Linked DNA regions of Homo sapiens. The protein of the gene in region 5 interacts with the protein of the main gene of each other region in a pairwise test. Each region holds a gene or a part of one and is shown on either strand. Other genes may lie near its edges. The genes, in order: PLIN3, BSND, SDR16C5, SEC22A, GAD2, DGAT2L6 and CPLX4.

Region 1 (4,159 bases), on a different chromosome or scaffold from region 5:
CAGGCTGGAGAGCAGTAGCATGATCTCGGCTCACTGCAATCTCTGCCGCCCGGGTTCAAGCGATTCTCCTGCCTCAGCCTCCTGAGTAGCTGGGATTACAGGTGCCTGCCATTGTACCTGGCTAATTTTTGTATTTTTAGTAGAGATGGGGTTTCACCATGTTGGCCAGGCTGGTCTTGAACTCCTGACCTCGTGATCCACCCGCCTCAGCCTCCCAAAGTGCTGGGATTACAGGCATGAGCCACCGCACCTGGCCACGATTTTTTTTTTTTTTTTGAGATGGGGTCTTGCTCTGTTGACTAGGCTGCAGTGCAGTGGCACAATCATAGCTCACTGCAGCCTCCAACTCCTGGGCTCAAGCAATCGTCCCACCTCAGCCTCCCAAGTAGCTGAGATTACAGGCACGCACCACCACAGCCAGCTAATTGTTTTAAATTATTTTTTGTAGAGATGGGGTCTTGCTATATTGCCCAGGTGGGTCTCAAACCCCTGGACTCATGCGATCCTCCTGCCTTGGGCTCCCAAAGCACTTGAGGGACTCACACAAAGAGGTGTGAGCCACTGTGCCCGGCCCCAGACAGTGTGGTTTGTGGCAGCATCCTGAGCAAATGAGTGTACAACCAGATACAGTGCCAGGAGCAAGCGGGAATGGCCCTGCCAGCCTGCAGAGGGGTGAGCAATAAGCCACTGAGCTCTGGGTGGGTGTCTGCTGCGGGGTGAAGGCTGCTGGCTCAGGGCCCCGACCCCCTGGAACCTCACCAGGCTTAGGACCTGCGACAGCTGCAGCAGAGCCTCCTGTGCCCTCTGCTTGGTGGCTCGAAGCTTGCCCAGCGAGTGCTCATAGGCGTGCTGCCGCAGCCTCTCCGACAGGGAGCCCAGACGTACGAAGTAGCTCTGTTCCTGCCGCTGCTGCTGCACGGACGCGACGTCAAAGCCATCCAGGGATGTGGCGATGCGGGCTGCAAGGAAAAGGAGAAGGGTCTCTGTGAAGACCAGAACACACAGCTGGGCTCGTCCCATGCAGACAGTCCCAAGAATCACACTGTCCAGTTTATTTATTTATTTATTTAGAGATGGAGTCTCGCTCTGTCGCCCAGGTTGGAGTGCAGTGGTGTCATCTCGGCTCACTGCAACCTCTGCCTCCCGGGTTCAAGTGATTATCCTGCCTCAGCCTCCCGAGTAACTGAGATTACAGGCGCCCGCCACCATGCCCAGCTAATTTTTGTATTTTTAGTAGAGACGGGGTTTCACCATGTTGGCCAGGCTGGTCTCGAACTCCTGATCTCCAGTGATTCATCCGAACTGGCCTCCAAAAGTGCTGTGATTATAGGCGTGAGCCACCACACCTGGCCATGCTGTCCAGTTTATAACCCAGTTCTACTTCTTATAAACCTCGAAGGCCTGGGAGCAAAGGATTCTGCCTTGGTTTTCCCTATCTGCAAAACGGGGATAAGGAAAATTAAACCTCACAGGAATCAGAGACCTTAGACTAGCAGGAGGGTCTCAAGCTATGGCCTGCAGGCCAGACCTGCCTTGGACAACCTGTGAATATAGGCCTGAATGTTCATTATGCAGTCCTGCAGAGAATAACAGCATTCCAGCCAGCAATACATCACATATACTACAGAGGTCCCATAAGATTATAATACCGTAGGCCGGGTGCAGTGGCTCATGCCAGTAATGCCAGCCCTTTGGGAGGCCAAGGCGGGCAGATCACTTGAGGTCAGGAGTTCAAGACTAGCCTGGCCAACATGGCACTACCCCATCTCTACTAAAAATACAAAAATTAGCCAGGCGTGATGGCACTAGCCTGTAATCTCAGCTACTTAGGAGGCTGAGGCAGGAGAATCGCTTGAACCCGGGAGGTGGAGGCTGCAGTGAGCCAAGATCACACCACTGCACTCCAGCCTGGGTGAGAGTGAGACTCCGTCTCAAAAAAAAAAGAGAATAATGACATTTCAGCCAACAATGGACTGCATATACTACAGTGGTCCCATAAGATTATAATACCATATATACCGTATTTTTCCTGTACTTTTTCTTCTTTTTTTTAGACAGGGTCTCGGTCTGTTGCCCAGGCTGGAGTACAGTGGCACGACCTCAGCTTACTGCAGGCTCAACCTCCCAGCTTCAAGCTATCCTTCAACCTTGGCCTCCCGAGTAGCTGGGACTACATAAAGCTGGGACTACGGCAAGACACCTGGCTAATTTTTGTACTTTTTGTAGGAATGGGGTCTCACTATGTTGCCCAGGCTGGTCTTGAAATCCTGGACTCAAGCAATCTGCTCGCCTCAGACTCCCAAAGTGCTAGGTTTACAGGTGTGAGCCATTGCACCTGGCTTCCTGTACCTTTTCTATGTTTAGATCTGTTTGTTTTGTCGGTTTTTATATTTTGAAGTACAGTCTCGCTCTGTTGCCCAGGCTGGAGTGCAGCGGTGCAATCATAGCTCACTGTAGCCTTGAACTCCCAGGCTCAAGTGATCCTCCTGTCTCAGCTCCCAAATAGCAACTGGGACTACAGGCGTGCACTAGCACACCCAGCTAATTTTTAAATTTTTTGTAGAGATGGGGTCTATGTTGTCCAGGCTGGTCTGGAACTACTGGGCTTAACTAATCCTCCCACCAAAGTGCTGGGATGACAGGTGTGAGCCACCACGCCTGGCCTCATCCCATGTTCGTAGGTTCATATGTGTATATGCATGTATTTATTTACTTATTTATTTATTTATTTATTTTTTTGAGACAGAGTCTCACTCTGTTGCCCAGGCTGGAGTGCAATGGCATGATCTCGGCTCACTGCAACCTCCGCCTCCCGGGTTCAAGTGATTCTCCTGCCTTAGCCTCCTGAGTAGCTGGGATTACAGGAATGTGCCACCATGCTTGGCTAATTTTTGTATTTTTAGTAGAGATGGGGTTTCACCATGTTGGCCAGGCTGGTCTCAAACTCCTGACCATGTGATCCAGCTGCCTCAGCCTCCGAAAGTGCTGGGATTACAGGCATGAGTCACCACACCTGGCCTTTATTTTTTTTGAGATGGAGTTTCACTCTTGTTGCCTGGGCTGGAGTGCAATGGCGCAGTCTTGGCTCACCACAAGCTCTGCCTCCCAGATTCAAGCCATTCTCTTGCCTCAGCCTCCCGAGTTAGCTGGGATTACAGGGATGCGCCACCATGCCTGGCTAATTTTGTATTTTTAGTAGAGATAGGGTTTCTTTATGTTGGTCAGGCTTGTCTCGAACTCCCGACCTCAACCTCCACCCGCCTCAGCCTCCCAAAGTACTGGGATTACAGCCATGAGCCACTGCGCCCAGCTGCATGTATTTATTTAATCCTGCTCCTACTGTACCCATGCTTTTTTTTTTTTGAGATGGAGTCTCACTCTGTCGCCCAGGCTGGAGTGCAGCGGCCCAATCTTGGCTCACTGCAACCTCTGCCTCCCAAGTAGCTGGGATTACAGACGCCTGCCACCGCACCTGGCTAATGTTTATTTTATTATTATTATTTTTTTGAGACGGCGTCTAGCTCTATTGCCCAGGCTGGAGTGGAGTGGCATGATCTCGGCTCACTGCAAGCTCCGCCTCCCAGGTTCATGCCATTCTCCTGCCTCAGTCTCCCGAGTAGCTGGGACTACAGGCACCCGCCACCACGCCCGGCTAATTTTTTTTTTTTTTTTTTTTTTTTTTTTAGTAGAGATGGGGTTTCACTGTGTTAGCCAGGATGGTCTCGATCTCCTGAACCTGTGATCCGCCCGGCCTTGGCCTCCCAAAGTGCTGGGATTACAGGCGTGACCCACCGTGCCCGGCCTAATTTTTGTATTTTTAGTAGAGACCGGGTTTCACCATGTTGGCCAGGCTTGTCTCAAACTCTTGACTTCAGGTGATCTGCCCACCTCGGCCCACCAAAGTGCTGGGATTACAGGCTGAGCCACCGCGCCCTGCCTATATCCTAAGCTACTTATTTGCAAAAATCCCAATCCCCGCACTTTGGGGGGCTAAAGCAGTAGGATCACTCCAGCCAAGGAGTTCTGGATCAGCTGGGATGACAGAGGGAGACCCCGTCTTTACCAAAAATTAAATAAAGAAAAATTAGTTGGGCGTGATGGTGTGTGCTTGTAGTCCCAGCTACTCGGAGGCTGAGATGGGAGGCTCGCCTCAACCCAG
Region 2 (4,725 bases), on a different chromosome or scaffold from region 5:
TGCCACTCCTTTCCCTGCTCACAGCTCCCCTGCCCCATCTTCACTAATGGGCTCAGCACCTCCAACTGTCCCATCCACTAGATTTGCCCTGATCCCTTCTCCTCTCTCATGCCTGAGGCCCAGCTGACCACCAAATCTGACCAGGTCTACTTCAGAAATTCAATAAGATAACCTGGGTGGAAGTGCTGGTGCTATGCCTAGCCACAACGGGTACTCTATGTGAAGTGAACTGTAAATGTCACCTTAGTTCCTACAGCTTTGTGTTTGAATTCTGCATTATTCCAGATGACTGTCAGCTCTCACCAAGACCAGAGAAGAAGCCTCCCCACTGGTATGGCTGCCCCCAGACCTTCCTTCTTCTGGATGTCTTTCTCAAACTGCAAAGCTGGTCGTGTCCCATTAACTAAAGGACAAGCTCCAAATTCCTTACCATGGCATCCCAGGCCCTGAAGAGTTGAGCCCCACTCCCTCGCTACCTTTACCTTCCTCCCCTCTGCCTCTCGTAGCCACAATGGCCCACTTGCCTTATTCTTTTACCACATTGCTTTGATCATGCTACTCTTCTGCCTGGAATGTCTTTCCCCATCTTCTCTGCTTGGTGAACTCTTATCTCACCTACAAAGCCCAGCTCACCTTCTCTGTGAAGCCTGTTTCCTCCCCATCAGGCAGCAAATAGCCTCTCCCACTAGACCTCTAGCCCCTAAAAGACATGGACAGCTTAATGCATGTTGGTATTGGCTACCCCTCACCCCTATATCCTAATTAGCTAATTCTATTCCCTTATATTTATATCTCCCCATTTATCAAAACTTTCCATAGGTCTGGCACAGAGAGCCACGGGGAGGAGGCTGAGGGGAGGACAGGCAGGAGCACTGCAGGCAGCGTTGGCCCAGGCACCAATGAGACCAAGCAGGATCCAGGGAGCTTCGCCTCTAGAGTGTCTCCCTGGTTTATAAGGTGCTTTCCTCCCTTCCCTTATTGGAGTCAATTTGTGCTGGCTCTACCAGCCTGCATCTCTGAAACACACACTCACACACACCTGCACTCATGCAGAGGCCCACCCAGTGCCGCAAATACCAATCCTCAATCCTAAGAACAATGCCTTCACATATGTTCCATGGCAGGTGTGATGCCAGGTCTCCCCCAACACACACACACACACACACACACACACACACACACACACACACGATCCCACTGTGTTCTCCCAATCAGCCGTACAAGGCTCAGAGCTGAGGGGGAGGGACTCTTTCTGCCAAGGTCACAGAAGTGGGACATGAAGGAGCAGGGATTTGAATCTGGGCCTGGAGGTTGCCACAACATGTGCCATTTTCAGCCCACCACGCTGCCTCCACAGCACGTGAACCCATGAATCTATCAACAGTTACTCATTAATACCCAGCAATATTCCCTCCTCCCCTCCCCTCCCCTCTACCGTCACTCCCATCAGCCTACCAACCATCCCAGAGCCAGCTCTATTTAAGAGCGGGGGCAGGAAGGATGCTCCTCTCCACACCTCTGCCATCCCTCTGCTGTCCCCCAGGGTCCAGCCTCCTCACTGGGAGAAGGATTATAATAGCAGTGGTGACATGAGTGGCTTTGGCCCCAAGGACTTCTCCCAGTGACCTCTGCTCAAGGAATTGCACAGACAGAGGCAAGTTGACTGTAAACTGCCTGCTAAATGACTACAAACCAGCCCAGACCGCTCCAGCACTGAACAGAATGACAGCCCAGGGTTGGCCCGTGGAGGGGGCAGGGCTGGGGAGAGCCGGCCCAGGCCCCAGGGAGCCATCCCCCTTCTTCCCTGAAACCCTGAGCACAGCCACCCAGGTGGGAGGAGAGGAGGTGTGGGGGTTGCTGAGGACTGCCTGGACCTGGAGCCCTAGATATTAGGTCCAGCAGGGCCCCCAGATATACCCCCTTTCCCACCCCCCCCTCCTAACTCACACAGTGTACAAATGAGGAAACTGAGGCTCAGAGAGGAAAGGGGCTTGAGCAAAGTCTCCCAGGCAGTAAGAGACAGAGCCCAAGTTAGAGTCCCTATTTCCCTCCTTTTCTCCCTGGGTCTGTACCTGACCAGCTGTGTGACCTTGGAAGTCACCCAGCCTCTCTAGGCATTGAAGATTCGCAACTCCTGGCATTTCCATTCCACAGAGCTGTTGGGAGGATCAGTATGGGTAACAGTGGTAGCCCTTCATCTATAAATAACACCTTACAGTTTACAAAATATTCCTATATCTTATCTCTTCTCTGATCTTTATAATGACCCTGTGAAGCTCTGTGGAAAATAGGGGCAGGGATCTCATTTGCAGATGAAAAAAATGAGGCTCAGAAAGACAAAGGTCATAGAGAGTTTGGAACAGGACTTGAACTAGAACTCAGGACTCCCAAACCAGTGCTCTTCCCATCACTAAATTACACATAAGGCTGAGAATACATGAAGACTCTAAAGGATACTGCCCAGTGCATGCCACCAAGGTTAGACCTGACCTACCCTGGAGCTCTCAGTCGCTCTGGGACCCAGAGGTAGAAGACCCAAGGTGAAGGGTGACGTGTAAGTCACACGCATCTGAGCTCCAAACCTTGCTCGTTAGCTGTGCAGCCTCTCTTTCTGGACCTCAGAAAGGCTCAGAAGGTGGAACTACAGAAAGCACCAAAAGGCTTAGGATGAGGGCTGAACTGCACCCTGAACGCAGGAGTGCCTGGCAGGGGGTCAGCGCTCATTAGCTTTTGTTTCAAGCACATGGTGTGTTGTGTTTGCTGTGTCTATACCATAGCTTCCGGCTCAGGGCTCCAGATCCAGGGGCCTTCTGATCAACCCTTAGGCTAAGGGATGGATGGATGGATGGATGGATGGATGGATGGATGGATGGGACAGACGCTCAGGAGAGCAGAGAGAAGACCGAGTCAAAATGAGAAGAATGAAAAGACAACTAAAGGATAGGGGGTGAGGCATGGCATACAGGCACAGTGTCCAGCCCTCCTGGCCCCAGCTGACCTGGCCCCACCCAGCCCCACTACCACCTACCTTGGGGTAGCACTGGCACATGCTCCAGATGATGCCCCCGATCACCATGACGCTGCCCATGGCATAGAAGGTGCCGTAGACCTGGGGCCGATCATGGCTCATGAGGAACGTACCGAGGGCCAGCAGGAAAAGCCCCAGCACAATGAAGCCGATCCGGAAGGTCTTCTCGTCAGCCATGGCTGCCTGGCCAGTCCCTGGCCTGCACACCCCCGGGAGAGGGGGTGGCTGTAGTTCAGCCTAAACACCGAGACAGGCTTACACAGGGAGAGAAGACACTGAAATCGCTGCAACTCAAGGCTTCAAGGGAGAGCAAGATCCCTTTCAATCCCGCTCCAGTCCCTGGGCCCACCAGTTCAACAGGGCTGGAGGCGGCTCGCTTCAACGGACCCACACCCAGCCACCTTTACTCCTTGCCCTCTCACCTTCCCTCTGGGCCCGGCTGGCCTGGAGTGTGTGTGTGAATCTGAGCGAGGGAGCACACAGGGGAGGGAGAGTGGGAGGTTACCGGGGCTGGGCCCCAGCCAAGGCTTTGACATCACCTCATTTGCCTACTGTGGGGTTGAGCTGGGTGGACAGGCAGCCTCACACCTTCCAGCTCTAGAAAACAGGGTACAGTTCTGCAGCTGAGAGCTGTTAGAATGCTATTGGAGGATTCCAGGATCCCACAGGCTGGCATTTCAGAATCCTGAAGAATTCTACACTCTTCAAGGACATGTGCCTATCCAGGGTTCAGGAATAATGGCCCATATGTACTGGCTGGTGACTATGTGCAGGGCACCATTCTAAACATGTTACAGCTATTAACTCATTGAAGGGAACCCAGTGAAGCAGCTACTACTATCCCCACTTTACAGAGGACCCTCGGGCACAGACAAGTAACTTGCCCAAGGTCACACAGCTAAAGATGGCAGAGCTAGTGGGATGTGAAGCCAGAGGCCGTGGGCCTAGCCACGGCGTGATACTTCTTAACTGCAGCTTGAGGGTGAAAAGCGTGGCTCTGGTGGCAAGGCAGGCTGCCTGGGTTTGGATTCTGGCTCCTCTACTGTGGGGCAGTGTGGTCATGATCAGGTTACCTCAGTTTCCTCCTCTGTAAAATGGGAATAATAATGTACCTCCCAGATTTGGTGCTGTCTCCAGGCCTGGCCTCCTTGGGTTCCTCCATCCCCTTCACATTCACACGCTATGCACCACCCAGTTGGGCTTTCAATGAACTGCTCCCCACCCACCCCTAAGGCTCTCGGAATTAGTGCCCCTGCAGGGTGTGAGTGACTGACAGTCACTTCCTCCATTTCCTTGCAGCCTGATCTAGGAAGATGCCTTCCTAAGAATAACACTAATGAGGCATTTTAGTCCTAGGGACAGGCTGATGGAAGAAATCAGATTCCTTTACAGGATTACAGGAAAATGAGGACCATCGGTCTCTACAAGAGAATGTTCACTTGGCGTTTACATGGGGTTAAATCGCCGATGCAGGATAAAAGGCTTTCAATGGGCTCCCTGACTTGCTGGGCTTGGGGATTTCCTGTTGGCGGTCATCACCTTCTCCCCTCCTGCCAGCAGGGCTGCCCTTGTTCCCTAACCCCACACCTGTGCTCACAGCTGCCCCTCTAACTAGACGTCCTTCTCATAGGCCCTTTTTCCAACAGGGGTTTCTCCTTCCTCACACCCACCATCGCCAGCCCTCAGAGTCCAGGTGC
Region 3 (4,159 bases), on a different chromosome or scaffold from region 5:
CCAGTGTGGAGCCCTCATGAATGGGATTAGTGCCTGTCTGAGAAGAGCCTATCAGCACTTTGATCTTGGACTTCTAGCCTCCAGAACTGTGAGAAAGGCATTTTTCTTGTTTAAGCCACCTAGTGTATGATACTTCATTATAGCAGCTCCTTCTATATGACCAAGACAATGTCTCTCCAGTTATTTCTAGTCCTCCTGGAATCAGAGAGGGAGCAGAATGGGATTGGATGGCAGGAAGGGGATGTGGCCCTGAGAGTCTGGGAAATGGAGGAGCAGATCCAGGGCCTGGGGGAGCTGAGAGACACTGCCTTGATAAACCATTCCCATTCAACTTGGTATCCTTCACACAAACACATACTAAGAAAGACAGAATTCTAAAACCATTTATAAATCATACTGAATCCCAGAACAATATATTTTAAACAACTTAAAAAAAAGAACAAAATAAAATAGCAAAACATTTTTAAGAGTGTAGATTCTTTGAAATTAAAGGACATACTTACCCTGTAGTACAACCTTCAAACATTCCAGTTTTTATAAAAAAGGGGCACACAATCGTGGTTTTGATCCCCTTTTGTTTTTGGACAAATGTTTCTACAAATACAGATTCAGCAAACCCAAAGGCTGCAAATTTACTTGCACAGTAATCTGAAAAAGACAAAGCATGATAACGTATATTCCAAAGTTTTAAAATGGCATTACATTAAGGTTTACCCATAACGCTAACAGCGACAGAAAATAAGACAATTTCAGAGTTCTCCTTTTGTGTAATCTTGGTCTACTCCCACTGGAAGAAGTGAGCAGGGAGTGGGAAGGGACATGGTTAACTGAAGATCAGGGTCAGTTGACAATGACCAAGTAGAGCCCAGCACAAGAAGGGCTGCAGAGATCCTGTCTCAGGTCACACTGCTGGACTTTACTTACAAGTAAATGCATTGTGAGCCCCTGTGCTAGTTCTTACATGGTGCCTTGTCTCAAAAAATTGCAATCCCATTGGGGCATGAAGACATTCAAAAGAAGAAATAAAACACTAAGTGATATAGGAATCTAGGCAAGAGAGGCCAGCATGGGTTGTGATTCTCAGATGAAGTTTTCTTCCAACTATAACTCTTTCCTTCACTTCCAGAAAAAAAAAAAGGGCTTGGTAGCTTCAACCTCCACCTCTTAAATACCTTGAAAATGTAGGGTGGGGGCAGAGGAAGGAGTGGAAAGTGGCATTTGTGTCCATTTTCAGCTTTTTGTCTTTAATCATACCTGTTTTAACAAAACATCTGACTATTCAGTTGACTAAGTGAAGAAGTTTGGAGAAGAAATGGCATTGAGGTACATTAACACTTTCCTTTGCTCCACACATTCAGAGGAGGCATATTTAAACTTGCTATGTTACGGTGCAGCTACTGCAACTGGCAAGAGCCAGTTTATAAGCGCCAGGCGTGGGGTTGTCCAGCCCTAGTGCTGTCCAGACAGTGGGTCAGAGGCTAGAGACTGGGAAGGGGGACGAGGAGTCCAGAGCAGCTTCTAGGGTCATTGGAGTCATCAGGTATAAATGCAGCTGAGTCCCTTGACCCCTGAGATTCTGATGAGCAGATATGGCCCATGACCCAAGGAATCTGCATGCTAAACTGGCACCCCGGTGGTTCTGATGCAGGGGAGTAAAGACTCACACGGTGGGAAATACAAAAGGCTTATACTTGTTTCTAAGATGAGCTGCAGGTGCGAGAGTCCTGTATCTCAAGACAGGAATGTTCTGTCTGAAAAGGATTGATAAGGAGCTGTAAATATACCTGAATGATTTCAAAGGCCCGTGACAACAGATATATAAGAGGGAGGTAAGAATAATACCTGATAAGTTCTAAGAAGGAGAGAGGAAGGGAAGTCCTGGGTCATAAGGAGGATAGACTGGTGATATTTGGGGTGACTGGTGGTCCTGAAAAACCTATTCATGTAATAGATATACTGAGCTAAGACTGGTTTTGTGAATCTTGAACTACGCCACTTTGCTTCAAAAGCATTAGGAACCACCCAACTGGCAAACTGGCTTATCTGTTATCCGAATGTTGCTGCTACAGTTCTGTTGGATGAGTTTTAGCAATGTTTGTAAGCCAGGACTTGGGACATTTCCTCTAGGGGATGCTGTGGTAGGTTAGGTCAAGATTTCTATTCCTTCTAGAGCCAGCTCCCAAGTTGGGCCTCCTTGGTTGAGGGTCTTGAAGGATCTCTTTGCCCTCTCCCCACTGCTACTGTCAAGTCAGTTGGTTGTTGCAAGGGAGATGAAAATGCCCACCACTTCCTGCAGGTCTTCAACCAGTGGAAAAACAAAGCAGTTAACTTTAGGTATCTTGAGGTGTAGAAACTTTATCCAAACTCACAGCAGTGGGGAGACCACTTAAAGGAAACTTCAGGAGAAGACAGGGTCATCCTCCTTACCATCTGTGACAGTGTCAGTGTGAACTTTGGTGGACAGTTGTTTTGTTGATCACTTGTGCAAAAAATTTATCAGTGAGGCCTCTCTCTCTTTTAAACACAGGGTACTGCATAAGACCTAATGATTCCAAAGGGCATAGTCCAATTTCATGTAAGTCTATCTGATGGGCAGTTTTGCTACACGATGAAGTTATCAACCACTTATTGACTATACTTTTTAGTTTATTATCCTTTATCTTAGGGCATCAAGTCAGTGCTAATTATTCAGAGCTATTGTGTAAGTTAAAGTTATAGGGAATTTTGCAATTGTAAATTGCTATGTTTTTCTTACCTGCCAGCCCATTTACTCCACTTAATCCAGCTGAACTTGAAATGCAAACCAAATGTCCATGGTCATTAGCAATCATAGCAGGTAGAAAGGCTTTATAAGTCTAAGAATACAAAGGAAAACTTTTAATGTTTAATGCCACATTGTATAATTTTCTCAGATATTTATATACTCATTGTGATTAAAAAATCTTTTTTTTTCAGCCTGTAAAATATCTGAAGGTATGGGGATATAAAAACTTAAACATCTGGAAAGTAATCATTTTAACTTATTTAACCTGTTAAATCAGTTTTTTATGGCAATTCCAGTATTATTAAAATAATTTATTCAGACTTATGTTTTTGCTCATATTTGACTTTTAACGACACAATATTAAAACAAGAATTGAAGGAGTAAATCTTTGTTGTGGCAGCCACAACCCCAAACCTCACAAACATGATGCTTTAGATTTAGATTGCCTTCTCTCTGCTTAGCTTGATTTTGAGTTTCAAATTTTCCCTGAACATTGTTCACAGGACATCTGGCTGTTGACTTCAATTTTAAAAGAGCACTTTGTTTTAAACTCATCTCTTATTTTTGTTCCATTTCGTAAAACAGAATATCTATTAGAAAGAGGACACATCTGTATTCTGTCCAACACCTTCACCCTTGATTGGGGGCCTGGAGAAAGAAGGTAAAAGAGACAGAAATGAGCTTTTAAGGAAGACATCTTCTGCATCAAAGGAGTAACTAATCACACCAAAGACAAGGAGGTGAGAAAAGGGATCTCTTACAAAGGCCAAACCTCACTTGTTTGCCTGCATTGCAATAAGTCTCAGAGAGAAACTAACAGGTAGAGAGAGGTGGGAAATCAAAACAAAGCAAAAGGAAGCAGTGCAGCAAACACTCTGGGGTCTGCCATGAGTTGGGACACTTCTCAGTAGGGACACTGCCTTTGAGAGCCCAGCCTTCAGGTAGCTCTTGGACGCTCTAGCAGTTAAGTCACTGTCTTTGTGCCTGGCAATGTGCAGATGCTCAAAGAATGTACATGAACTTGCCCAGAAGAAGTAAAGGGAGTGAGATGACATGAGGAGTGGTAGGAGCCAGGGAAACACCAGCACTGAAGGAAGAGGAGGAAGAGGAAGAGGAGGTAGAGGAGGAGTTGGAGTTGGAGGAAGAAGAAGAAGGAGGAAGAGGAGGAAGGAGGAGGAGAAGGAAGGAGGAGGAGGAGGGAGGAGGAGGAGGAGGAAGGAGGAGGAGGAGGGAGGAGGAGGAGGAGGAAGGAGGAGGAGGAAGGAGGAGGAGGAGGAAGGAGGAGGAGGAGGAAGGAGGAGGAGGAGGAAGGAGGAGGAGGAGGAAGGAGGAGGAGGAGGAAGGAGGAGGAGGAGGAAGGAGGAGGAGGAGGAAGGAGGAGGAGGAAGGAGGAGG
Region 4 (4,159 bases), on a different chromosome or scaffold from region 5:
AAGGGATTAATAACTAGAATACACAATGAGCTCAAACAACTCTATATGAAAAAATCTAACAAGCCAATTAAAAAATGGGCAAAAGATCTGAATAGACATTTCTCAAAAGAGACATACAAATGGTAAACAGGTATATGAAAAGGTGCTCAACATCACCGATCATCAGAGAAATGCAAAACAAAACTACAACGAGACATCATTTCACCTCAGTTAAACTGGGTTTTATCCAAAAGACAGGCAATAATGAATGCTGGTGATGACGTGGAAGAAAGGGAACACTGTTGGTGGGGATGTAAATTAGTACAACCACTATGGAGAACAGTAGTAGTTTTGAGGTTCCTCAAAAACTAAAAAGAGAACTATCATATAATCCAGCAACCCCACTGCTAGCTATATACCCAAAAGAAAGGAAATCAGCATATCGAAGAGACATCTGCATTCTCATGTTTACTGCAGTATATTCACAACAGGTAAGACCTGGAAGCAACCTAAGTGCCCATCATCAGACAAACGGATTAACAAAATGTGGCACACATACACAACAGAGTATTATTCAGCCATAAAAAAAGAATGAGATCCTATCATTTGCAACAGCACGGATGAACTGGAGGACATTTTATTAACTGAAATAAACTAGACACAGAAAAGAAAAGTTTACATATTCTCACTCATTTGTGGGAGCTAAAGTTTAAAACAACTGAACTCATGGAGATAAGAGAGTAGAATTTTGGTTACTGGAGGATGGGAAGGGTAGTGGGGGTGGGAGAAAGGGTGATGGTTAATGGGTACATAATATAGTTAGCTAAAATGAATAAGATTTAGTACTTGATACCACAATAGGGTGACTACAGTCAACAATAATTTATTGTACATTTAAAAATTAACAGAGCACAACTGACATGTTTATAACACAAAGAAATAATAAATGCTTGAGGTGATGAATACCCCATTTACCCTAATGTGATTATTACACATTGCATACCTGTATCAAAATATCTCATGTACCCCATAAATATATTACACACCGAATATGTACCCATGAAAATTAACTTTTTTTAATTTTAAATTTAAAAAAATGTTTTTCTAGCAAAGAGATCCTCTGAGGTTGCTATTTGAAAGTATTTTCCCGATTAGTCACACATCTGGTAGCTTACTTTATAAATCACTGAAAGGATTGCTTTGAACTTCTATATTCTCTCATGTACTTGATTTAAAATATTAGAATAAAGTAATTCATTTTCAAGAGTTTCTCAGTTTTTCCCAAGGATTTTTTTAAAATAAAATAACTGAGATCCAGAACTCACCAGAAGAAATCTTACCAGCACCTTTACAGTCAACAGAAAATGCTGATGTGACTCCATTGGCTGACCCCAGTTCGCACATGGAAATTTGATAAGGAGGCCTCAGCTTGATTTCCGTCTGCATGTCAGAAAGATTTATCTTTGTTGAAAGAGACCTGGGATTATTATATCGCTGCTTGGTCCTCTGAATGAAGTTATCTATGTAAAATAAAAAATAAATTTCCTTGCAGTCACTTGTCAATTAATCATTTCAGAATATGATGTTTATGGATAGTAAATATTACAGGTAGTTTATTATTCAAAATTGTTCAATTCGTCATGAAATAGTCCAATATTACTTGTGTTTAATGATTAATGTATCATGGAATCATCAGTTTTACCCTCTAGAAATCAGTAATTTTAAATAAACTAAGGATTTAACACTACCTAAGTGTATTACATCCACTTCAAGAAATTACAAAAACAAAAAACAGCTTTAACTTTAAACCAAAGTCTTGAATTTTTTTTTTTGAGACAGGGTCTTGCTCTGTCACCTAGACTGGGGTGCAGTGGTACAATCATAGCTCACTGTAACCTCAAACTCCTGTGCTCAAGTGATCCTTCTGCCTCAGTCTCCCAAGCAGCTGGGGCTACTGGTGTGAGCCACCATGCCCAGTTTATTTATTTATTTTTGTACAGACAGGGTCTATGTTGCCCAGGGTGGTCTCGAACTCCTGGCCTTAAGTGATCCTACTGCCTCGGCCTCCCAAAGTGCTGGGATAAAAGGCATGAGCCACACCACACCTGGCCCAAAGTCTTGATTTTTATAGAGATTCCTATCTCATGAAATATTAAATCTGTCAGATTTACCAGCTGCAATTACATAAGAACACACACTAGAAGTTGCATGTTTTTATAAATCTGTTTTTTATTGCTTACACCATTAGAATGTAGGTTTTAAAGAATAAATTGAATAAAACTAACATAAGACATTTCCTAAATATTTTCCAAGTGGAATTTTATTTTTACTATTTACAACATGGTGTTTTTTTTTTTTCTTCTACATCAGAAGTTGAGCAAACTACTGCCCACAGGCCAAATCTAGCCTGCTGACTATTCTGTAAAGTTTTATTAGAATATAACTGCACTCATTTACGTACTGCCTATGGCTGCTTTCGAGCTACAACGGCAGGGCTGAATAGTTGTGACAGGGACTATATGATCCTTAAAGTCTAAAATATGTACTATCTGGTCCTTTCCAGCAAATGTTTGCCATCCCCTATTCTACATGAAGCAGACTATAAAAGATTATTACAGAAACGCAAAAGTCTGAATCTCTGGCTTATAAATTTCTCATTGAGAAGTTATCCTCTGGCATTAATTCTTCGGACCAATACTCACAATCCCCTTCACAGCTCAAACACAATTTTTTTCTAATAAGCATCTAAGTAAAAAGTTACCATAATTTATAGATCATTTACCAAATTATTATATCAAAAGCAAGATAGCAGAAGTCCCCCCTCCACCCAATATTAGATTTAAAATTGCTTATGATTGGATGCAGACAGAATAAAAAGGAAAAAAAAATCAGGCCCTTACCAAATTCAATGAAACAGTATGGTCTGACAGCAGTATTTGTCTTCATCATGTTATAAGTAGTAATGAACTCCTTCTGAAGCTCATCCAGGAAAGAGAAGGCGAGAACATTTGGGTAATTTTCAGTGCACAACATCATGTAGCTCACTCCCAGAGAGCTAATAAAACTACAGTGTAAAAAACATTGGTTTTAAAATTTCAAATTAAATCAAGGTAATTCACTGCTTCACAAGACTGGTTCTATACACCATAAACTGCTACTACGGTGGCAATGAAGATCTTAACATTTATTATATATTCTAGGAAAAAATTTAAAGGAACCAAAATACAGCACTATTTTAAGTTGTGGTTTAAAAACAGAAGACAAAAAATAGAATGTACTACAGAGGGACACACAATACGGTTCTAACATTTCAGTTATCACTTGGGGTAAAAAGCAGGGGAATGGATATACAAATGTATTGTAAGTATTACAGATAGCTTAAAGTCTAACCCTTCAATATGTTTTCCACTTTTGAGTCCAGAACCCTTTCAAGATTCTGATGACAGGAACACTCTCCCTAGAAAGATGCCAGAACACAGAAGATTGCACACAATTTCAAGGTGATCACTGACCTCTTGAAGTTATCATTGACACACCCCAGAATCAAATCCTCTACTTTACACAGTAATTAATTATGAACCATGGGAGGGGGGAATTTATGAGTTTATATAAAAAACAAAAGGAGAAATGAGGGCTATGGCTTAAAGCAGAATGCTGAGTGTTGACTGGTAAACGTAGAGGAAGTGCTAGCAATGGAAAAATCAGCATTTTGCAACCAACATAGTAAAGATTGGATCAGGCAAGGACAATCATGGATGTTAAATCTAGGGGGAAATTTTTACGGGTTAGTATATTTGCATGGTTTTAAAATGTCTTTCCATGGATTGTTTCTTAGTTGCAAGGGGAAAATATTATACAGTAGAAACTAGGTAACTCCTTCACCAAGTACTCTCTAACATCATTCATGTTAGATGGACATTGTGTGTCTCCAGATGTTATATCCTGAGAAAGACACATCAGCTATATAATATTCTGAGAATGCATAATTTGAATTTAATCATTAAGAAAACACCAAAATGATCAACATTCTATTTTTGAAAAGGAAAAAGTGTATTCTTTAAAAGTGCCAGGGTTGTAAAAAAGAAATAAAGGATGTGGAAATGTTGCCAATCAAAAGAAGCTAAAGAGGCCGGGCATGGTGGGGGCCTGTAATCCCAGCACTTTGGGAGGCCGAGGTGGG
Region 5 (4,159 bases):
TGCTTTGTGAATGCCAGCAAAGGTTATCGCCTGACTACTTCTTTCAAGACATCATAAACTCACTCTCAGAAAACAAGCAAATAGAGTTGTTAAAAGTCTGCATAGGCCGGGCACAGTGGCTCATGCCTGTAATCTCAGCACTTTGGGAGGCCAAGGTGGGCAGATCACCTGAGGTCAGGAGTTCGAGACCAGCCTGGCCAACATATTGAAACCCCATCTCTACTAAAAATACAAAAATTGTCTGGGCGTGGTGGTGAGTGCCTGTATTCCCAGCTACTCGGGAGGCTGAGGCAGGAGAATCGCTTGAACCCGGGAGGTGGAGGATGCAGTGAGCTGAGATCACGCCACTGCACTGCAACCTGGAAGACACAGTGAGACTCCATCTCAAAAAAAAAAAAAAAAAAAAAAAGAAGAAAAATGTCTGCATATATCAGGCTCTATATGTCCTGGCTCTGTAGGAGTCCACAGACGGGAATGGGCCCATGTACCCAGGTAGGCTGTCTCCTAAGGCCACAGGCATATGTCATAAAGAAGATGTGCACATGAAAGGCTCAATACACACATGTATCAGAGGAGCTTGGAGCACTGACCTTCGAGAGGCGACTCATTCTCTCTTCATTGTCTTCCAGAGTACGCAAGCTTGGAGGAATGTACCAGAAGCAGACATTTGTGTGCTGAGGCTACAAAGAGGAAAGGAAGATTCACATTTGGCCCAGGCTGGCAATTTTGAAAATTCCAAGAACATTTCAAATCGATGTATTCAGCAGGTTCAGAACACAATTCCCACTTTTCAATCAGGAATTGCCATTGGAGGGCATGATTTTGACAACGTTATATGGACCACTTTGAGAGTTTCGTCTTTATTCCAGCTTGGAATAGCTACCCCGTCATCCACTGCTCCCCTCTGTAATCGTCCCACTTACCTGGACAGCACATCATTTACATCATATCAGTGATGAGGGTTGGAATTGACTAAACTTTCTGAGATTGTAGAAATCCAAATACATACCTTCCCATCAAACACCATCTCATATCCTTCTCGGTTTTTTATGATGTTGTATAAATACTCTGCCAACTCCAAACATTTATCAACATGCGCTTCAAACCCGGTAGTCCCCTAGGTAAGAGAAGGACACAGCTCATTAAGCAGGCTAAGAGTGCGGAGGAAGCGATTTCCCTGGAGACTGACCGTCATCCTGCCGTCTCTGTCTTAGCCCCGTCTGGCACTTTCTCAACACAAGGCTGTTTCCAAAGGCTTTTTCAGCGCTATTTTCTCTTCAATGCTCTCCCCGTCAGGTGCTTTTGTTCCCTTTCATTACTGCTTTCTACACGGAACTCCTTTTCTTCCAGAGCCTCCATTCCCCAGGCAATTAGTTTGACTACTCAAGAGGAAAATGTGCCTCTGCTATTCATAGGAATAATCATGGAAGTCATTAATAACAGGAGGGCTGAGCTACTCTCTTCCTGCAGATAAAAAGCATCACCAGAGACCCCCCAGAATGCCTGCTTAGTTCCCCTCCAACGTGCACATTTTCCATTCCCAGAGCCCATCTTTGTCTGCCAGTGTACCTGATACAGAAAAAATTGGGTAGGTGCTCACTGACTTCATTGAACAAATGGATGCAGGAATTTTAGGGAGCACCCAGATGCTTTGTTAGCCTGTCGAGCTCTGTACAGTTCTCCTTTGGGGGCAGATAAATGACTCACGTGTCTGTAATGGGTGAACATTATCACTGATTTCTTTTAGTTTCTGGCTCTGGAAGCTCTGAATCCAGACTTGGGAAAACCAACACAACAGTCTTGGACTGGAGCTGTTTAACTGACATCGGGACACACAAGAGAGTTACTTTTCAAAATGGCTTTCCTCTTATCTCCTTGGGTGTTTACTGGGTGCTGATGGAGAAAGCTTAAGAGTAAAAGCCAGTGCTCATCTCAGAAGCACTTTGAACCTGCCTACCAGTAACTTCTCCAGCAGAGAACCTAGAGAAAGCAATTGTAATGGAGATGAGATGGGCCCACTTGCCTGTTTCATACAAGATCACATCATCTCAGCTAAGGGGGCCCAACATAGCCCAGTGACTTGTGACATCTGAAGCAGGTTTAAGAACAAGCTGCCCTGGAGATATCAAATGGGTTCAGAAATTCACTTCTTTGGAGACTGCTCCCCCAGGTAATCGGCTCAAGGAGGCTGATGGGTTCCTGATGCCTCCCCAAGAAGAGCTTGGGCTGATGCCTGATGCTTGGCCAGCACCCATACCAGGAGCTCTCTGCATCTATGGGTGCTAAGGAGATTATAATTGGTTTGGAATGACCTGACAGTTTGGGTTCACTTGGGATGGACTGTAGGTAGAAGTGAGGGAAGCTAATTGCTCTTCTCCAACCTGGATCCTTTGGACCAGTCTGGAGTTGGGTTTAAACTTTTGCATATCTGATCTAGGATATGGCATGACCAGCTTGCCTCTGACCCTGTCCAGATGAATGGCTTTGGCCAACTCTCTGATCAGATGGGAATGATGATGCCTCTCTGATTTCCCATGAAGAAGAGTTTGCACTGCAACAGCAATGGGATTACTAAAGACCTCTGGTTCCCCTGGTCTGGGACCTTGCTATGGGGATGATCATGGGCCATGTGACTGCCCCTTTAGTTGGGGGCTAAAGATATACATGGGGAATGACACAGAAAACTCTAGTGTGCCCTGGGTGCCTCCCGTTCATATTGAATATTTATGGGATTAAGATCCACATTTTATTTTCAAGGTTTTGAAGGCTTTTAGGAGATTCTTCAAAATTCTTTCATTCATTAAATACTTCAGCAATCTCACCATCCAAGTGTTCAGCTGCTGCCTCTATGTGGTCTTGGGGTTTGACATCTTGAGAGCTGGTCATGATCATTCTCCACTTCTTGAAATGCTTTTATAAACATTCACAGGCCCCAGAGACAGTGCTTTTGAAATAACTACCGAATCCCTTGCTGTTATCTCAATTTTTGCTGCTATCACCCTAGTTCAGGCTCTGTTACTTTTCACCTGGAACATAGCTCCCAAGTCGCCCTTCAGTCAATTAGACTTTCCCTCACTTTCATAATATGCACTGAACTCCTGCTCAACCACTCCGTGGAATGGCCTTCTCACAGCACTGCTGGGTGAAATCCTACTTCTTCTACCTATCCTGTTCAAGTCCTATCTCAAAGGTCATCTCTTTGTGAATCATCTTGATTCTTAAACCAGGAATGAGCTCTCCGTCCTTTAAATTCCCCAGATGTGTCTGGATTTCTTTTGTGATCAGTCCTAATCTGTCTTTTATGATGGATTTCTGTGCATTTATCTTATCTTGTCTGGAAAATGAGAGCCTTCTTATCCCATTCAGTACTAGACACGATAATAGATGCTGAATATCTACTTGTTAAAATAAATTAATATTTTAGAGAGAAAGTAAACATTCATTTTCAGCAAAGGATGCCAGATGTCCATTTCCCTTTAATATTTTTTTCCTGGTATTTTTTTTCACAGCCATTTGCCAGTCCCTCTGTTATCCACATTTTTAATTAGAAAAGCTAATCATAAAAAAACCACAAGGAAAACTGACTATTTGTATGACTACATACAAACACAGAGATTTGCTATGAAACCTTGGTTGTTATAAATGAAGTTATTCCTGCAGGCCTGAAAAGGGAATGTAGGAGAATCGCTTGAACCTGGGAGATGGAGGCTGCAGTGAGCTGAGATCACGCCACTGCACTCCAGCCTGGGCAACAGAGCAAGACTCCATTTCAAAAAAAAAAAAAAAAAGGTGGGGGGGAGATGTAATTTTAAGTTTATTTACTTATTTTTGTTAGCTACTGAGTTTTAGCCACCGTAGAAATCTGTCAACATTGGGAAATAATCATTAGGTCCTAGGATTATTTAATAAAATGCAGACAAAATGAAAGGCCAACTCCGTAAGAGGAGAGTCAACGGTAGGCACTGGGCCTTTGCTGATGATAATAAAAATCCATATCTTAACCAGCTAGTATGCCGCTTAGCAACCTAAATCAGGGGTCTTATTTTTTGCATAAATTGGTTCTAATCAAGTTAATTTGGACTTAATATGATGGCTGTCATCAGTGCATTTAGCTCCATTAGTCATTAGCAGATTAGTTCAAAGAATAATTTATACTTAG
Region 6 (3,020 bases), on a different chromosome or scaffold from region 5:
AACCTCCCCATTATAGGACAAGAACCCAAGCACCCAAACATCTCCATCTTCATGTCCCATTCCTGCCATGCCTCACTCTCCCAACTGAACTCTGAAGGGAGCTGCTGCTCTGCCTTGTCCTGTTATAGGGAGAAACTAATCTCAAAAGCTCTGTCTTCATTGCATCCAGCATGCAGAGTGTTCTTCGTAAACTGCATATCTGGACATGCCACTCCTCTCAAACTCTTCCAGAGCTCCTCAGTTTGCACCATGCTGCTTCCTTACGGCCTTTTTGCTCTAGCCTTCCCTCCTTGGCTAGCTTTCCCTTTCCCCACTCTTTCCTTGCAATCTGCTTAGCCATATTAAGTGTGCCTCATACTCTCTCATCTCTGTGTCTTTGTACATTCTGCTCCCTCTGTCGGAAGTATCTTCCTTCTTCCCTCTGTCTTTATGTGGCTCATTCAATTTTGCACTCAGTCCCAATCTCATCCCCTTAAAGCAACTTTGTTTGACCACTTCATTTCCCCCAACGCGGATTAGGTACCCCTCATCTAGTGCTTACCTCTCTTCTACACTAACGCTGCCCCAACCGTGTATTATAGTCATCTCCTTACTTGCCTGACTCCCCCAGTAGACAGCAAGCCAATCAAAGGCAAGAACTGGGTCATATTCATCTTTGAATCCCTAGGCCCTGGCATAGCACTTGACATGCCATAGGTCCTCACTGAATGCCTGAGTTCTTTCTCCCTTTTGGTCTGCCTGGCAACTCCTACCAATATTTCAATTCACAGTTCAGATGTTACCCACCTATGAAACCTCTATTCTGGGTCAAGATCTTTCCATAAATTGGTGCTCACGTGGCACTTTGTACACATTTCCATTGTAGTGTTCCATTTATTTAACAAATATTAAGCTCTTTCTATGTGCCAGCACTGTTTTAGGCCCTGGAGATGCATCAGTGAATACAATGGATTTTTAAAAATTCTGTGTTCGTGGAGTTTACTTTTTCTGGGAGGAAGACAGACAATAAACATTGAAAATAGTTGGTAAACAAATAAATAAAATGGATGAGCTATAAGAAGATAAGTGTAACCGGCAAAAAATAGAGCAAGATGGTCAGATAACTGTATTGAGAAGAGACATTTGAGCAAAGACTTGAAGGAGATAAAGGAATGAGCCAAGCAGTCATTTGGAGGAATAGTGTTCCAAGGGAACCGCTAAAGCAAAGACTCTAAAGCAGGAGCGGGTGGCCTGCTTGAGGGACCGCAAAGAGGCCGGTATAGCTATGATGGAGTGAGAGAGTGGGAAGAGAAGTGAGTGATGAGGACAGAGAGGCAGCTATAGACCAGATTATTCCGCGTCTTGCAAGCCCCTATAAAGACTTTGGCTTTTACTCTGAGTGACATGGGAGCCATTGGATTATTTTGAGAAGTGACATGATCTGACTCATGTTTAACAGGATCATCCTGGCTGAAGCTGGGAATAGACTCTTGGGGTGGGGGAGGTGGGAATAGATACAGGAAGAGCAGTTAGAAGTGTTGTAATCAACCAAGGGGAGAGATGGTGGTAGTAAACCAAGGGGTGGTAGCCTAGGTAGTAAGTGGTTGGATTCTGCAGGTATTTGGTAATTATATGTGCATGGGTCTGTCTTCTTCCATATTGGACTGTGAGTTTGCAAGGACCAGGTCTTATTTACTTTTATATCCTAAATGCCTAGTACTATGCCTGATATACAGTGGGTGTTCCGTAACTGCTGAATGAATAAGGTCTATTTCTCAAACCAGATTGTATGCTCTTTGGGGTCATGTCTTATCTTTTTGATCCTCACGGTATCAAAGCTAGTGCCTCCCTTGCAGTTGGTAGATTCTTAGGGCCTCTCAGTTAACAGGTTGATATAGAGTGAAGCCCCGCTTTCCCAGACCTCCAGCCTACCAGGCCAATGGGCAGAAAGTAAAAGGTTTTCTTCTGCTGTTCTTTCTCCAACTTCAAGTAAGAAAAGTGCCCACTGAAATGTATCTGGAGGCCCAAACATCCCTAAGGCACAATGTGAGGGGGTAGACAGAAGGAATTAGAGTGAAGATGGGGGCCCTCTAACAGGTGCCCAGGGAGGGCACCATTCTGGAGAGGGCTACAGAGGGCCTATGGCACCCTGACAACAGAGCACTAGAACCTTGGAACCCACCCTGTTTGCAGTGCCATCTTCACAAAACCTTTACGCTGCTTGAGGAAGAGAGTGGAGGCTCCTGGTCGGCACAAGAGAGCTTCAGCAGCTCCACCCACCACAATAACCACGGCATTGCCTGAGCCTTTCTGGGTCAGCAAGTACTTCAAGGCTGAGCTACTCACAGGGCACACACCTGTGAAACCAAAGAGTCAAGTGGTAGAAAAACTTCATTCCTGAGGATGGGGTAAGGGGTTTTCCCAGGCTCTTCCTTTTGGAGACAGTTCTTCTGTTTTCTGACTATTGCTGTTTCCACCTTTCTGTCTCTGACCTTCGTGTCCCGGGTTATGACTGCCCTAGCCTAAGATTGGTCCTTAGGGTCAGCTGTTTGCCTTGGGGGTCTGTGCTTCTGCAGTTGGGTCTATACTGAGCTCCTCTGCCTCCTACCATCCATAGCCTACTGCATTTCAGATCAATAGTATCTAAGCCCACCTCATCCCTCTCTACCCATGAAGCACAGCCATCTTCCACTCTGCCCAGCCTGACAACACTGGAGATCCTCCAGAGTTCTCTCCTCCAGGGGTAATCGAGACTAGCCACCACCAACCTGCTTCCTCCCTAAGAGTAACCTGCCAAAGGGAAGCCAATGGCTGGGGTTTCTGGAGAGTAGGCAGACCCCTGAGCCTGACCAAGCCAAACTGAAACGTAGATGAATAATGGAATGTGAATGACACCCTGTTGTTTAACAACAATCATCTAGCCTTTCTCACTTCTGTCTCCCATCTTTGCCCTGCGCTCACCTTCTATTGTCTACTGTGATGGCAGAAATTGCCTCCAGACTCTAGCCATTGAGAAGTATTCCTGCTCCAGGGCCATGCTA
Region 7 (4,921 bases), on a different chromosome or scaffold from region 5:
CAAGATTCTACAGCCAGGCTTGGTGGCTCACACTTATAATCCCACCACTTTGAGAAACTGAGGCAGGCAGATCACTTGAGGTCAGGAGTTCAAGACCAGCCTGGCCAATATGGCAAAACCCTGTCTCTACCAAAAATACAAAAGCTTAGCCGGGCATGGTGGCGCATGCCTGTAATCCTAGGTACTCGGGAGACTAAGGCAGGAGACTCGCTTGAACCCAGGAGGCGGAGGTTGCAGAGAGCTGAGATCCTGCCACTGCACTACAGCCTGGGCAACACAGTGAGGCTGTCTCCAAAAAAAAAGATCCTACACACCAGCTAGTAGTTCCTGGATGTCCAAGGGCAAAGGTCATTGTAATAAATCAAGGAGTAAAAAGTTTTTTAAGTCGTGACCTCATTCTCAATGGAATTACCTGTTGAGGAAATAATAAGATATTTGATTTCATAAAGCACTCTCAGGAGACCTTCCACGGCGACCCTGCTGAAGCTACCACCGAAGAGTCCCCATAATGCATGACACCCCCTCTTCCTAACCCCCTCCACACAAACATACATTCAGAAAAGGACGGGACAGGGAGAAACTCCTTTACACATGGGTGCTGGAGTTTAGAATTGACACCCTCACCATTAATATTTCCTAATTCCTCATACAATGGAATTTTTAGAATAGATTTTATAATAAATCTAAATAATTACTTATAATAAAATGTAGACCGAACAGACAGAAACACAAGGCTGTGGCTTTTATTTTATGGTTTGAAAAGTTCTATGAGACAACATTAATTAGTAACATTCCTCAGTGGACTGCAATGTAGTTTATTATAAATGGTAATTTAGAGATAATGGTATGAACGTGTTAAGTTCCAAGCAACCCATCTAAAAGAGAAAGTGGAACTCAATATTGATGGGCATTCTCCTCGAAGCCCTGAGTACAGCTTATATTTCACCCTAAATTATCTTTTTTAGCCTTTCATATTGAGACCATTTAAGCAGCATTTTAAAATAGATTACTAAAAGGGAAAGCAGACGATAAAATATATAAAGCAAGCATTTTAGGCAAGAATCCAGATTATGTAATTCTATATGATCAGAGAGATAATCACCTGGTTTCTGAGAGGACTCATGCCTTCAGATAAAATAACAATGGATTACATCTCTTCCTTCCCACCCCACCCTCTTTGGCAGGCTTTAATTAGAAAGATACTAGTGTAGATTGAAGTCTTAGCCATACTCAACTCTTCCCTTGACCTGAAGAAAACCACAGCCATAGAGAATCTGGTGGGATACAAAACATTGTCAGTTTCATCCAAGTACACCAGTGAGCTTAAATAGAGCACCCAGGAGGTGCACTCTTTATGCAAGAGAAAAAAGGTGACCCCTTACATATTGATGATTTGACTCACATAATGGTCTTACCTTCTGGATCAGAGCCTTGAAGTGTCAAGCACATCATTTCCATATAGACAAGTAATATTTCCATGCAGGAGAAGGCTAAGATAATCTTCCAGATGTAAACCAAGGACCTGCTGTCTGGGTCTTTGCATTTGTCAGTTGTGTATTTATGTGCGGGACACAGTAACTATTGAAGCAAACCGAATTCAAGCAAACTAAAAAGCAAATCCTTGCATAGTACTTAAAGTCCAATGAGATAAAATGATGGATCGAAAGGATTATTTTTGCTTAATGAAGCATTCTGGGTTTTGAGTCTCATTGGACTCAGTTTTTCAACAGGATGTTTTGCTCAAGGGCTGGAATTTGGAAATTCCACAACAGCTATATAATCAGTCAGCTCTGATTAATTTAATTGAAACAGGACTCTTGATGAAGCCCTGCTGTGCTTATAATTAAAAATTTAGAAAGGGGTAGATGATGTGGGGATTTCTTTTTCCTGTGAAATTAGCTGAGTGTATTAATTCAGAAGGTAGGCAGTTGCCTCTGATTGTATGCTTCGGTAATCTGAACCATCTGCCTCTATATACTAAGGAGTTCACCACTTTAATCCAGCTTACGGCCGACAAACCACTCTTCTCTATCAGTATGCCCTTGAATAGATGAGGTTGTGCAAAGTCCTTTGCTCTTAAATGTATTGCTGTCATTGAGAATATTTGGAGGTTTTCTCTTGGGTTTGTTTGGATTTTTTTTTTCAGCTTTTGTCTGAATTTTGGTTTTATTTTTCTGGGGCAGAGAAAATGGCTTTCCTTATGAAAAGTATGATAAGTAACCAGGTAAAGAATTTAGGATTTGGTGGTGGGTCTGAAGAAAATAAAGAAGAAGGAGGTGCATCTGATCCTGCAGCAGCTCAAGGGATGACTAGAGAGGAGTATGAGGAGTATCAAAAGCAAATGATTGAGGAGAAGTGAGTACATGCTATTTCATTTCCCTTAAAAAGCAAAGGAAATTCATTCTGGCCATACCTTCTTCAGTTCTCCAGTTTATTTCTCTTTGCTTTTTAAGATGCCTTTCCTTTTGCCGTTTACCTCTAACCCAAGGAAAGGTTGTTCTTCTAAAGTAAACGGTTCCCTAACATCAGCAGCTACTATGTTCTATGTTCTACATGTATGAATGGAAATGAACAATAATAAATGAATCTATATGTTGTTCTTAAAGCAGCTTAACACTTTCTGGTCTAGGCATGTTTTGATTGACCTCAATTTAATTATTTAGATGAAAAGTGGTAGGTTTAACTATCTTTACATTCTTTCTAAACTTCACCCTCTTAGCACGTAGAAAGTCTTCAAATTGTAAGAATTCAGACCTTATACCTAGAAAAGGGCCTAAAATAACATAGAGGGCAGCTTCTTTGATCTTGCATGTGAGAAAAAAAAAAAAAACCCAGGAAGCATAACATGACAATTATGTCATAAGACTTGGCTTATCAAAGACTATGAATGGATTTGTGGACTGTTTAATATGGAAATTCTAAACATACAGAAAAGTAGAATAGTAGGACAAATACCCACATATACCTATGACATAAAATCAACAGCTTACAGTTTGCTACATTTGCTTAAAGATTAAAAAGATAGATGGTAGATAATAGCTTTTAAAGTAAATTACAGATGTCATGTACTTCACCCCCAAATACTTCAGCCACCTTCCTCCAAAAAATAAAGGCATTTTCTTGGCTATATAAAATATAACAAAAATAAAATATAAAATATAAGCAACATTTAATTGGGTATTATAGAATGTGAATATCACCAACAACTTTTCACCACTTGAAGACTGATTCTGAAATAAATGTAATCTCTGTGTAATTTTTAAATGTTTAAGGTAGAATTAAGATTCTTTTAATAATCAGTTAAGAAATGAAACATCAATCTAGAGGTTAAATGTTTATCATATGTTTCAAAAGAAAAGTATTTCTTTTTTGCCACCAGGACTCTTTTGCTAATGATCAATTACATAATAGTTGCCTAAATCCTATCGCTAAGATGATTATAGGTGAAAAGGTTAATGACCTGGAGGAAACAAAGAAAGTACAAAGACTACGTTTAGTGGAAACCTTGTCTATTGTATTTTTCTGAAAGAAATCATGGCTTATAGACTACCTAGAATACATTATGCTTGGTTCTGCAGTAACTTAAAGTTGGTTTTTAAAAAACAGTCAATGCAACTAGCAAAAATGATGGTGCTAAGACTTGGGCAAAAGAAGCAGCATTCCTTGAATATTGGCTGATTTTACCTATGGCATGCAAAAGAACAAAAAGCTTAAAAGCAAAATAAGTACTGTGTAATGAAGGATAGAAGACAAAAATCAGCATCAAACATTCTCAGATCAAGTAGGCTAATGAAAACAGAAATGTAGACTACAGTTGTGAGCATGCAAAATATCACCTAATATGTTCAAGCAGCAGATCCGATTGCAGATAAGGCATCTATTTGATTAACTAATGTCCTAGTTTTCCTTAATTTTATATCTGGACAGATCAAAGCTCAAAATGGCCAAATCATACAGTCAATCAGCAGACTGAGTTGTCAGCTACTCAGCTTTTTGCATATGTGTGTGAGAATATTATATATTTATGTAGTCACTCAATGTAAGAAATAGTGTCAGGACAATGGAGCATTTGGCTTCCCTATGATAAAGAGGGATGACTTTCAGTCCATTGTTTGAGTTTTCAAGAATTTCACCACCTAGAATGCAATATGTAGTAGGCATTAAAAATAATTCATCACAAGATAAACGCAGAGAGAGCTACAAACAGTTTAGTATATATAATAATTAAAATCAATGTTAGCAAATGAAAGCCTCCTAAACCCATCCTCATCATTGTAGGAAGTGGGGAGACTATATGAATTATAAATAAAAAACTATTTAGCAATGCACTCTATTTAATAATGCACATTCATTTTTATTTTCTTTCTGTGTTCAATGTGTGTGTGTGTGTGTGCGCACGCACCACTGGTAACATTAGTACTGAAAGAGGTCTAAACATAAATAGACTATCTGGAAAGGAAATAAAACAATAGTCTGTTTCTCCCGCCATTTTCTCAATTATATTAAAATGCTTCTTTGCCATAGTTATGCTTCAACAGTTTCTACAATATCATTTGTAACTTGACTCTGACCTTTGTTTTATTCAGTAATTGTTTGGACCCCTAGTATGAGCATAGCATTGTGAGGAATGTACTGAAATGGAAGAGATGGGTTTTCTTCTGCAGGAATTTACACTTTACTTGGTGGGGGGAGACTAGCTAGCTGCATGTGACTATAAACAGAGCAACCAGCTTTTCTGCGTGATTTGTAGACTGGCTCTGGAGGACTGGAATGTAACTCTGCGTGGCATTAGTATCAACAAATCGATCAATGGGGTTTATAGTTATTTGATTTTCAACAAAAGCGCCAAAATAATCAGACCAGGAACGGAAAGTCTTTTCAACAAATGGTGCTAAACAACTGAAAAACATTGAACTTTGAC

Evidence for each region.
Region 1: the proteins of GAD2 (region 5) and PLIN3 interact in binary tests that used the Homo sapiens proteins (3 or more experiments, as listed by UniProt).
Region 2: the proteins of GAD2 (region 5) and BSND interact in binary tests that used the Homo sapiens proteins (3 or more experiments, as listed by UniProt).
Region 3: the proteins of GAD2 (region 5) and SDR16C5 interact in binary tests that used the Homo sapiens proteins (3 or more experiments, as listed by UniProt).
Region 4: the proteins of GAD2 (region 5) and SEC22A interact in binary tests that used the Homo sapiens proteins (3 or more experiments, as listed by UniProt).
Region 6: the proteins of GAD2 (region 5) and DGAT2L6 interact in binary tests that used the Homo sapiens proteins (3 or more experiments, as listed by UniProt).
Region 7: the proteins of GAD2 (region 5) and CPLX4 interact in binary tests that used the Homo sapiens proteins (3 or more experiments, as listed by UniProt).

What each region holds. Positions count from the first base shown.
Region 1 is NC_000019.10:4,846,932-4,851,090, forward strand, and holds part of PLIN3 (perilipin-3), read right to left. Parts: intron 960-4,159; coding exon 760-959; intron 1-759. UniProt on the Homo sapiens protein: Structural component of lipid droplets, which is required for the formation and maintenance of lipid storage droplets. Required for the transport of mannose 6-phosphate receptors (MPR) from endosomes to the trans-Golgi network.
Region 2 is NC_000001.11:54,997,667-55,002,391, reverse strand, and holds the start of BSND (barttin), read right to left. Parts: upstream 3,460-4,725; 5' UTR 3,206-3,459; coding exon 3,029-3,205; intron 1-3,028.
Region 3 is NC_000008.11:56,306,173-56,310,331, forward strand, and holds part of SDR16C5 (epidermal retinol dehydrogenase 2), read right to left. Parts: intron 2,856-4,159; coding exon 2,756-2,855; intron 649-2,755; coding exon 504-648; intron 1-503. UniProt on the Homo sapiens protein: Oxidoreductase with strong preference for NAD. Active in both the oxidative and reductive directions. Oxidizes all-trans-retinol in all-trans-retinaldehyde.
Region 4 is NC_000003.12:123,222,443-123,226,601, reverse strand, and holds part of SEC22A (vesicle-trafficking protein SEC22a), read right to left. Parts: intron 3,044-4,159; coding exon 2,880-3,043; intron 1,500-2,879; coding exon 1,305-1,499; intron 1-1,304. UniProt on the Homo sapiens protein: May be involved in vesicle transport between the ER and the Golgi complex.
Region 5 is NC_000010.11:26,289,423-26,293,581, reverse strand, and holds part of GAD2 (glutamate decarboxylase 2), read right to left. Parts: intron 1,118-4,159; coding exon 1,010-1,117; intron 681-1,009; coding exon 591-680; intron 1-590. UniProt on the Homo sapiens protein: Catalyzes the production of GABA.
Region 6 is NC_000023.11:70,201,206-70,204,225, reverse strand, and holds part of DGAT2L6 (diacylglycerol O-acyltransferase 2-like protein 6), read right to left. Parts: intron 2,337-3,020; coding exon 2,162-2,336; intron 1-2,161. UniProt on the Homo sapiens protein: Diglyceride acyltransferase that uses fatty acyl-CoA as substrate. Particularly active with oleate as a substrate. Has no wax synthase activity to produce wax esters.
Region 7 is NC_000018.10:59,315,730-59,320,650, reverse strand, and holds the start of CPLX4 (complexin-4), read left to right. Parts: upstream 1-2,001; 5' UTR 2,002-2,188; coding exon 2,189-2,355; intron 2,356-4,921.